Linked DNA regions of Homo sapiens. The protein of the gene in region 1 purifies or fractionates together with the protein of each later gene. This does not show direct contact. Each region holds a gene or a part of one and is shown on either strand. Other genes may lie near its edges.

The links.
Region 2: the proteins of EPCAM (region 1) and MARCHF8 purify together in Homo sapiens (affinity purification with western blotting; one study listed by BioGRID). This does not show direct contact.

The regions. Positions count from the first base shown.
Region 1 is NC_000002.12:47,372,032-47,375,849, reverse strand, and holds part of EPCAM (epithelial cell adhesion molecule precursor), read right to left. Parts: intron 2,388-3,818; coding exon 2,280-2,387; intron 2,043-2,279; coding exon 1,802-2,042; intron 617-1,801; coding exon 551-616; intron 1-550.
Region 2 is NC_000010.11:45,455,364-45,459,181, forward strand, and holds part of MARCHF8 (E3 ubiquitin-protein ligase MARCHF8), read right to left. Parts: coding exon 3,757-3,818; intron 3,181-3,756; coding exon 2,876-3,180; 3' UTR 1-2,875. UniProt on the Homo sapiens protein: E3 ubiquitin-protein ligase that plays several important roles in innate immunity and adaptive immunity.

The DNA.
Region 1 (3,818 bases):
CCTGTAGTCCCAGCTACTTGGAAGGCTGAGGCAGGAGAATCGCTTGAAACCGGCAGGCGCAGGTTGCAGTGAGCTGAGATCACGCCACTGCACGCCAGCCTGGGTGACAGAGCGAGACTCCGTCTAAAAAAAAAAAAAAAAATTTTTCCTAAATTTGATCGTTGTATAGTGGTTTATATAAAAGAATGCCTTTTGTTCTTAGGAAAACATACACTGAAGTACTTAGGGGTAAAGGGGCCTGATGTCTACAACTTGCTCTCATGTGCTTCTGGGAAAAATATTTATACATGCATAGATACACTGATGTAAAGCACACACACATATTCATCCACACATACACATATAAAAAGCAAATGTGCCAAAATGTTAATTGGTGAATCTGAGTGAAGTGTATTCCCAGAATCTCTGTGCTATTCTTGCAACTCTATTTCAAGTAACTTTATTTTTCAGAAATATAAAAAAGCATTTAGACTTGCTTTTTCTAATGGTGTAGGATGGAAGATTTGAGCCACCAACTGTGCAAGAATATGATGCATTTAATTGCACTTACGTCCGCAAACTTTTACTATCATAAGGTTTTTCTCTTGCTTTGTGTTTTAGTTCAATGATGATCCAGCTATAAAGTAAAAAGACAATGTCAGTTGACTATAACTCAGTCTTCCATACTATTTTCCTAATAAGCTAATCCTAAAATTCTCGAATTATAAGGACTAAGAGAAAAAAAATTTATGCAGTAGCTATTCCTATAATTTCTTCCCTTACACATCCTTCATAAAGGACACACCCAGGAGGGAACACCTTTTCTAATATTGACCCTCTGTTCTCTGGACACAATACATAAAGTCACATTAAGTCAAAGTTTAGCTGGCAGTGTCATGCCCTGTTCAACTAAAAAGATGAAAAGGCATGAAAGGCCCGGGCATGGTGGCTCACAACTGTAATCCAACACTTTGGGAGGTGGAGGTGGGTGGATTGCCTGAGGTCAGGAGTTGGAGACCAGCCTGGCCAACATGGTGAAACCCCATCTCTACTAAAATACAAAAATTAGTCAGGTGTGGTATAGCTGTAGTCCCAGCTACTCAGGAGGCTAAGGCAGGAGAGTTGCTTGAACCCGGGAGGCAGAGGTTGCAGTGAGCTGAGATTGTGCCACTGCACTCCAACCTGGGCAACAAGAGTGGAAATTCCATCTCGAAAAAAAAAGAAAAGAAAAGAAAAAAGAAAAAACAAAAGAAAGGGCACAAAGAGAAAACTGACAACGAGGCTCCAGAAGACCAGAACAGAAAAACAAAGTGCCCACTTTGGTCCTGACATCCTTTCCAGTTTCTAGTCCCTTCCAATGAAGTCTTTTTTTGCTTAAGCTAGCTTGAGTGGGTTTCTGTGCCTTTTCATTAAACAATCCCTAAAACAAGCATATCTCACTTTTAAAACACAATCAATAAGCAAATACATAGGTTAAATTACATACATTTACTACTAATGCAACAATGAAATACTGAATAATGTTAAGTAAAGATATAAAAGAAAAATTATACCTAGTATGCTATCATTTATGTAAAAATAATAAAACAGATATATAACAAATTCATCAACTATCTCTGGAAGGTTATAGAATAATCAATAACATCAATTCTGTGGAGGTCCAATGGGTAGCGAGGGGGACTGGAATGAGAAGGAAGCTTTTCACTGGACACTCATATCTTCTGAATTCTAAACCATGAAATCATATTACATAATCAAAAATAAATTTAATTAAATGAATCTGAACAGCATGAAAACAAGTAGTATAGGCAGCCCCACTCACTAGGTTCTCACTCGCTCAGAGCAGGTTATTTCAGTGTCCTTGTCTGTTCTTCTGACCCCAGCAGTGTTCACACACCAGCACATGGAGGTGCCGTTGCACTGCTTGGCCTTAAAGAGCCCGCTCTCATCGCAGTCAGGATCATAAAGCCCATCATTGTTCTGGAGGGCCCCTTCAGGTTTTGCTCTTCTCCCAAGTTTTGAGCCATTCATTTCTGCCTTCATCACCAAACATTTGGCAGCCACTGAAAAAGAAACCTTAATGCCAAACTGAAAAATAACTGATTTCATGATTACGGGAAAAAAAAAATTAACTCTAAAGTTCCAGGGTCAAAGATTATTTGAAATTTATGTGTTCCCACACTTACTTTGTAACATGATTCAGATTTAAGCCAATAAAACTCTTTCCAACTCAAGGCACATCAATTAAAGAAGTATTAAGTCAAAATAAAGCTTACAGGTAATTAGGATATTTTACTCACGCTTTGAGCAAATGACAGTATTTTGTGCACCAACTGAAGTACACTGGCATTGACGATTATTATTCACAAAGCAGTTTACGGCCAGCTTGTAGTTTTCACAGACACATTCTAGAAAATTAAAAAAAAAATCTACTTTAAAATGTGGATCTATTAACTCTCATGTCCCAGCTAAGTTATATTGTAATAATAATGCCTAAAGTTACAAGGACACAAAACCTTAAAAAGTGGTTCTGAATGTTTTATTTTTCAGCTATAGACTACTGCCTAAGTGCCTGGCACTTGCTAAAGTTTGCATACTGTATACAGACACATAGTTTAATCTGCATGCATTCCTGTTTTTTTTTTTTTTTTTTTTTTTTTTTTTTAAAGATAGGGTCTCACTCTGTGGCCCAGGCTGGAATGCAGTGGCACAATCTTGGTTTACTGCAGCATGGACCTACAGGGCTCAAGTGATCCTCCTGTCTCAGCCTCCCAAGTAGCTGGGACTACAGCCATGCACCACCATGCCTGGCTAATTTTTAACTTTTTGTAGATACGGGGTTTCGCCATGTTGCCCAGGCTGGTTTTGAACTCCTGGCCTCAAGCAATCCTCCTGCCTCAGCCTCCCAAAGTGCTGGGATTACAGGCATGAGCCACTGTGCCTGGCCTCCTGTTACAATTTTTTTAAAACAAGAACACAGCTCTCCAAGTATCATTTCTAGCTTTGTCTTTGTGAAACTCCCAGTCTTAGCTCCTTCCACAGTCCTGTCCTGCTAAGTAACATCCCTGTTAGTCACTGCCTTTTTTTGTTTTTCTTCTTGAGACAGAGTCTCACTCTGTCGTGCAGGCTGGATTGCAGTGGTACAATCGCAGCTCACTGCAACATCCATCTCCCAGGATCAAGCGATTCTCCTGCCTCAGCCTCCCAAGTAGCTGGGACTACAGGGGTATGCCACCACACCTGGCTAATTTTTGTATTTTTAGTAGAGACGGGGTTTCAGCATAATGGCCAGGCTGATCTCAAACTCCTGACCTCATGATCCGTCCGCCTCGGCCTACCAAAGTGCTGGGATTACAGGTGTCAGCCACCGCGCCCGGCTTTTTTTTTCTATTTTTAGTAGAGACGGGTTTTCACCATGTTGGTCAGGCTGGTCTAGGACTCCTGACCTCAGGTAACCCACCCACCTCGGCCTCCTAAAGTGCTGGGATTACAGACGTGAGCCACCATGCCCGGCTGTCACCGCCTCTTTTACAAAAAAAAATCAACTATTCCAATTCTAGGATCTGTGAATCCTCACCTTCTCTTGCTCTCCCACCCCATTTTCTTAAATGAGGGATGTTTCCTTTGGGGCTTAACAGGAATATATTCAATCTTTAAACAATTTTATATCTTGGAAAAATTACACTTTCAACTGCAGTTATAGTCCTCCCTTTAAGTGAGTTTCCTAACTAAATTAAATCCTAGTACCTGATAAGGAAAGTGATACTAAGCAGCCCATTCTGTATTATTGATGTCAGTTTAATAGTTTTGTCCTTAACAACCTCAAAAGTTCATTTAAC
Region 2 (3,818 bases), on another chromosome or scaffold:
CTGTGACTTATGGGGAGTAGAGGCCAAATCAGAGAGGGCTGGCTGGTGATACCCCAGACCACTTGCCTCTTCCCCTTCCCTGGCCTACAAATACCAGGCCTCCTGGCCCTGAGACCTCATTCTGGGTTTCTATATGGGTCAACCAAATGCCATCCTTTCACTAAACCCAGGTGCAAAATGGGGGGGGAAGGGGGGAAGCTGGGGAGTACACAGCACCCAAAAGAACCGAGAGAGCAAGTTTTCCAAGGCTACAGGAACATTGGCAGAGCTGGTGGCCACACCAGATGGGAGTACCACATCCCCACCAGGCTTCATGCTTCACTGCTAGATGCAGGGGGCTAGAAGGGTCTGATGAATCAGGAGCTGAACTAGAACCTTCAAGAAAAGAAAAGGCAAGGGGGTGGCTCTGTGCCCCGCCAGGAGAGGAAAGAAGAATGTGTGTGGATTGTCCACAGTGAGGCCAGAAACGATGAGATGGTGTTAGGCAGAAAAGAAGGGAGAGGGCTTCCCATGAGAATCTGGCTGGGCATGGGAGGGATACAGGGCTCAGTTATCAAGGCACCTTTGCCATAGTGGGGTGCCAGCTACATTGGGTGGGATGCCCAGGGGCTGTCCCTACCTAAGCACTTTCTTGTCTACAGGAAGTCTTGGTGCTTTTCAAGTTCAGCATAAGGGGTTCCATATGTGAAGTGGGGATTCACACTTAGAAAATCTATCCTGGTCTTCACCTGAAACACTCATCTACTGCTGGGTGGCAGGAACAAGTATACAAAACCAGGGGCCTTGCCTGGGCAGTTCCTAAGGGACATTGGCAGGGCTGACCTGGGATTCAGCTCCCCTGAGTGGACAGTCTGTGGTTGCCTGGGGTCCCCAGGCTGAGAAGGGGTATGGGTAATTGCACTTCGGGGCACAGTGAACACAGGCACGGGCTGGATGTGCCCTGGGAGACAGAAAGGAGAGGCTGACCTATTCTCAGGAGCTGGCTATGGCTGGACAGTGCCTGCCCGGCCAGAGGAAGGCCACAGCAGAGCCACTCCACAGACTAAGACCTGTGTTGCCAAGGAATCAGACACTGGCTTGGAGGAGACAGGAGGACAAAGCCTGCTGCTATTAAGCCCACACCGTAGCTTAGAGATCCTTCAGCCTCCTGGCCTTCAAAACAAACTCCAGGGCTTCCACTCTGAAAGGCAAAGGAATCACCTCGTGTTTGCTTCATCCCCTTAGCAGGATGAACGAAACGCCTAAGGCCCAAAAAGACTGAGGGCAGGACCCCCAGCATCTCCCATCTCCTCCGTGCAGGCTGGGTGAGAGAATGGCCTGGAAAGGAAGCATCTGCGCTACATTGTGCTTCAGGCCCCCCCAGCAACTTTCCCGGAGGTAACTATTTGCCTGGAAAACTAGGAAACTGGGTTTTAAAAACAGAATTTTAAGCAGACTTTTTAGAGGGACAAGGCCATTTGATGGTAGTGATTTTGGTTTTGTTTTATGAAAATGGTACAGGTGGTAATCCCTGATGACAGAATGCACTGAGAGTGGGGCCAAGGGCCCTGAAGGATCCTGTCTGTTCAGTCTGGTTAAGGCGACAGCTGGGCGGGCATGTGGCCGGGGAGCAGTGGCACAGCGGACCCTGGCAGTTTGCTCACACCTGGCCCTCGTCCCAGAGCCAGCCCACCTGCCTCTTGGCCCTGGTAGTGACTCCACAGAACTTCCCCGAGCAGAAGCCTCACAGTGGGCCAGCACCCATCTTGCATGCAAGGGAGAACCTGCATGCAGTGCACACACCCCGGCCAGGGTGGCACATGGCTGCTCTTTCAATGTGAAGCCAACACCAACTGGAGAGATTTAACTATAAAGGAATATTTTTTAAATATTCAGTTTTGTTGTCATTACTCACTTCCTTTCCTTCCATTTCGATCTCAGAAACTGTTCTTTTTCAGTGTTGACAAAAAAGAAATGTATGGGCCAGGTCTACAAAGTAACACCTTGTCATAAAACAGGCTCAAAAGCATAGGAATCATGCTTTAATTGCCATTTAGCATCCACTAATTCCCATGAGATCTGTGATTAAAAAAAAAGCCTCTGGCCTGCTTGTCCTGTCTTAAAAGTCATGAGTCTGTTTTATGAACAGAAAGAATGCCACGCTTCTTAGCATATGTAAGGCAAAATGGATTTTTGATCTCTCATGATGTAAAGGAGATACAAAGGTAAGGAAGGGAAGATTTCTAAGTGAGACTTTTTTTGAGTGTCAATCCCGCTGGACACACATATTACAAAATAAAGATTTTCTTCTGTAAAGTGCTGTTTGCTCAGTGAATCATGCGCCACCACAGAGCACCATGGCTCCACCTGCTCAAGAGCATGGAGGAGGCAGCATCGGCAGAGGGCAGGCAGGAGTCTGTGTTTGGGGGTCTGTTTCAATACCATCTCCTGGGGTTCGCCGTGATGCAGAGGGAATCTTCTCGTCATGGCTAGACACTCCCCAATGCTCTGCTCCAGGCTGGGGACCACTGCAAGCTGGAGGCGGCTGGGTATCAGGGCCTGGGCACCCCTGCTCCTCCTCTTCCCTTGGGATTGGCATTTTATTCTCTCATTCAGCTCAAGACCATGGGCAGGAACTCTGCTGGCTCCCCATGATGTCATCATGGGGTCTTCCACTTTCCCACAGAGCTGCCAGGCAGAGGCAGGACCCAGGCATGCCTGGCCCACAGGAAGGTTTTCTAGGAGACTAAGGAGGGTTTAGAAAAAGAGAAGCCACTATAAATAGTCACCTGTCCAGTCTATGCTATTAAAGGACATAAGAAAGGTATACAATTGGCAGTAAACAATTTCCTTCAGCTCTTCATGGATGTCCAGGAAAATGACAACCCGCACACAATCAGACGTGAATGATTTCTGCTCCAGTGTCTTCAGGCTCTGTGCAACAAGAAGAGTTTGTGTCGGAATGACAGATTCCATATCCATGTTTATTTTCAAAGTTGGGCTCTGTTAGTGGAGATTTTTCAAAAATATTCTTTTTGCTTGTTTCTGGACAGTTTTGAACATAGATCACTCTATTATAGGCCTTGAGTCTCTTCCACAATTGCACATACACTTTACACTGAACATACATAAAAAGAAGTCCTCCGGTGAAGCCGATGGCCACAACCACCAATTTAGTCCAAAAGGGCCATTCTAGGATTCCTGGAAGGGAAAAACTCAGCCTATTAGATTTTATTTAAGATATGAAGTAAAGAAAAACACAACTTCTGAACTTCCCATAATCAACTGATTCTTTGTTGTTGTTGTTGTTTTTTAAGAGATGGAGTCTTGCTATGTTGCCCAGGCTGGAGTGCAGTGGCTATTCACAGGTGTGATCATGGCACACTACAGCCTTGAACTCCTGAGCCTCAGCAATCCTCCATCCCTCAGCCTCAAGTATCTGGGGACCACAAGCCTGCACCACTGACCAATGGATTCACAACTCATCCAATGTTGCTCAGTCAAAGAAGAGTGGAAGACAGTGTCCAGCTACTTCCTGCTTTTATAGGATGTAGTTTGCGGAGATTCTCATGCTCCAGAATATGAACTCTCCTGACTGGGTTTCAAAAACTACCACCACAGCAAAAGAAATGCCAAAAAGGAGGCTAGTGCCTCCTAACTGATGTCCCTCCTCCGGAAACCCAGACGTTTTTGGCTAACTGGAAAATCCTCTGACCCCAGGACTCCTGTGAGCTATCCCGGCCCCCATGCTGAGCTTGCTCCAGCCTGAGAACTCACCTGTTGCCTGCCCCTGCTTGATCTCCTCAGCAGTACGGTCAATGAGCACATACAAGGACCAG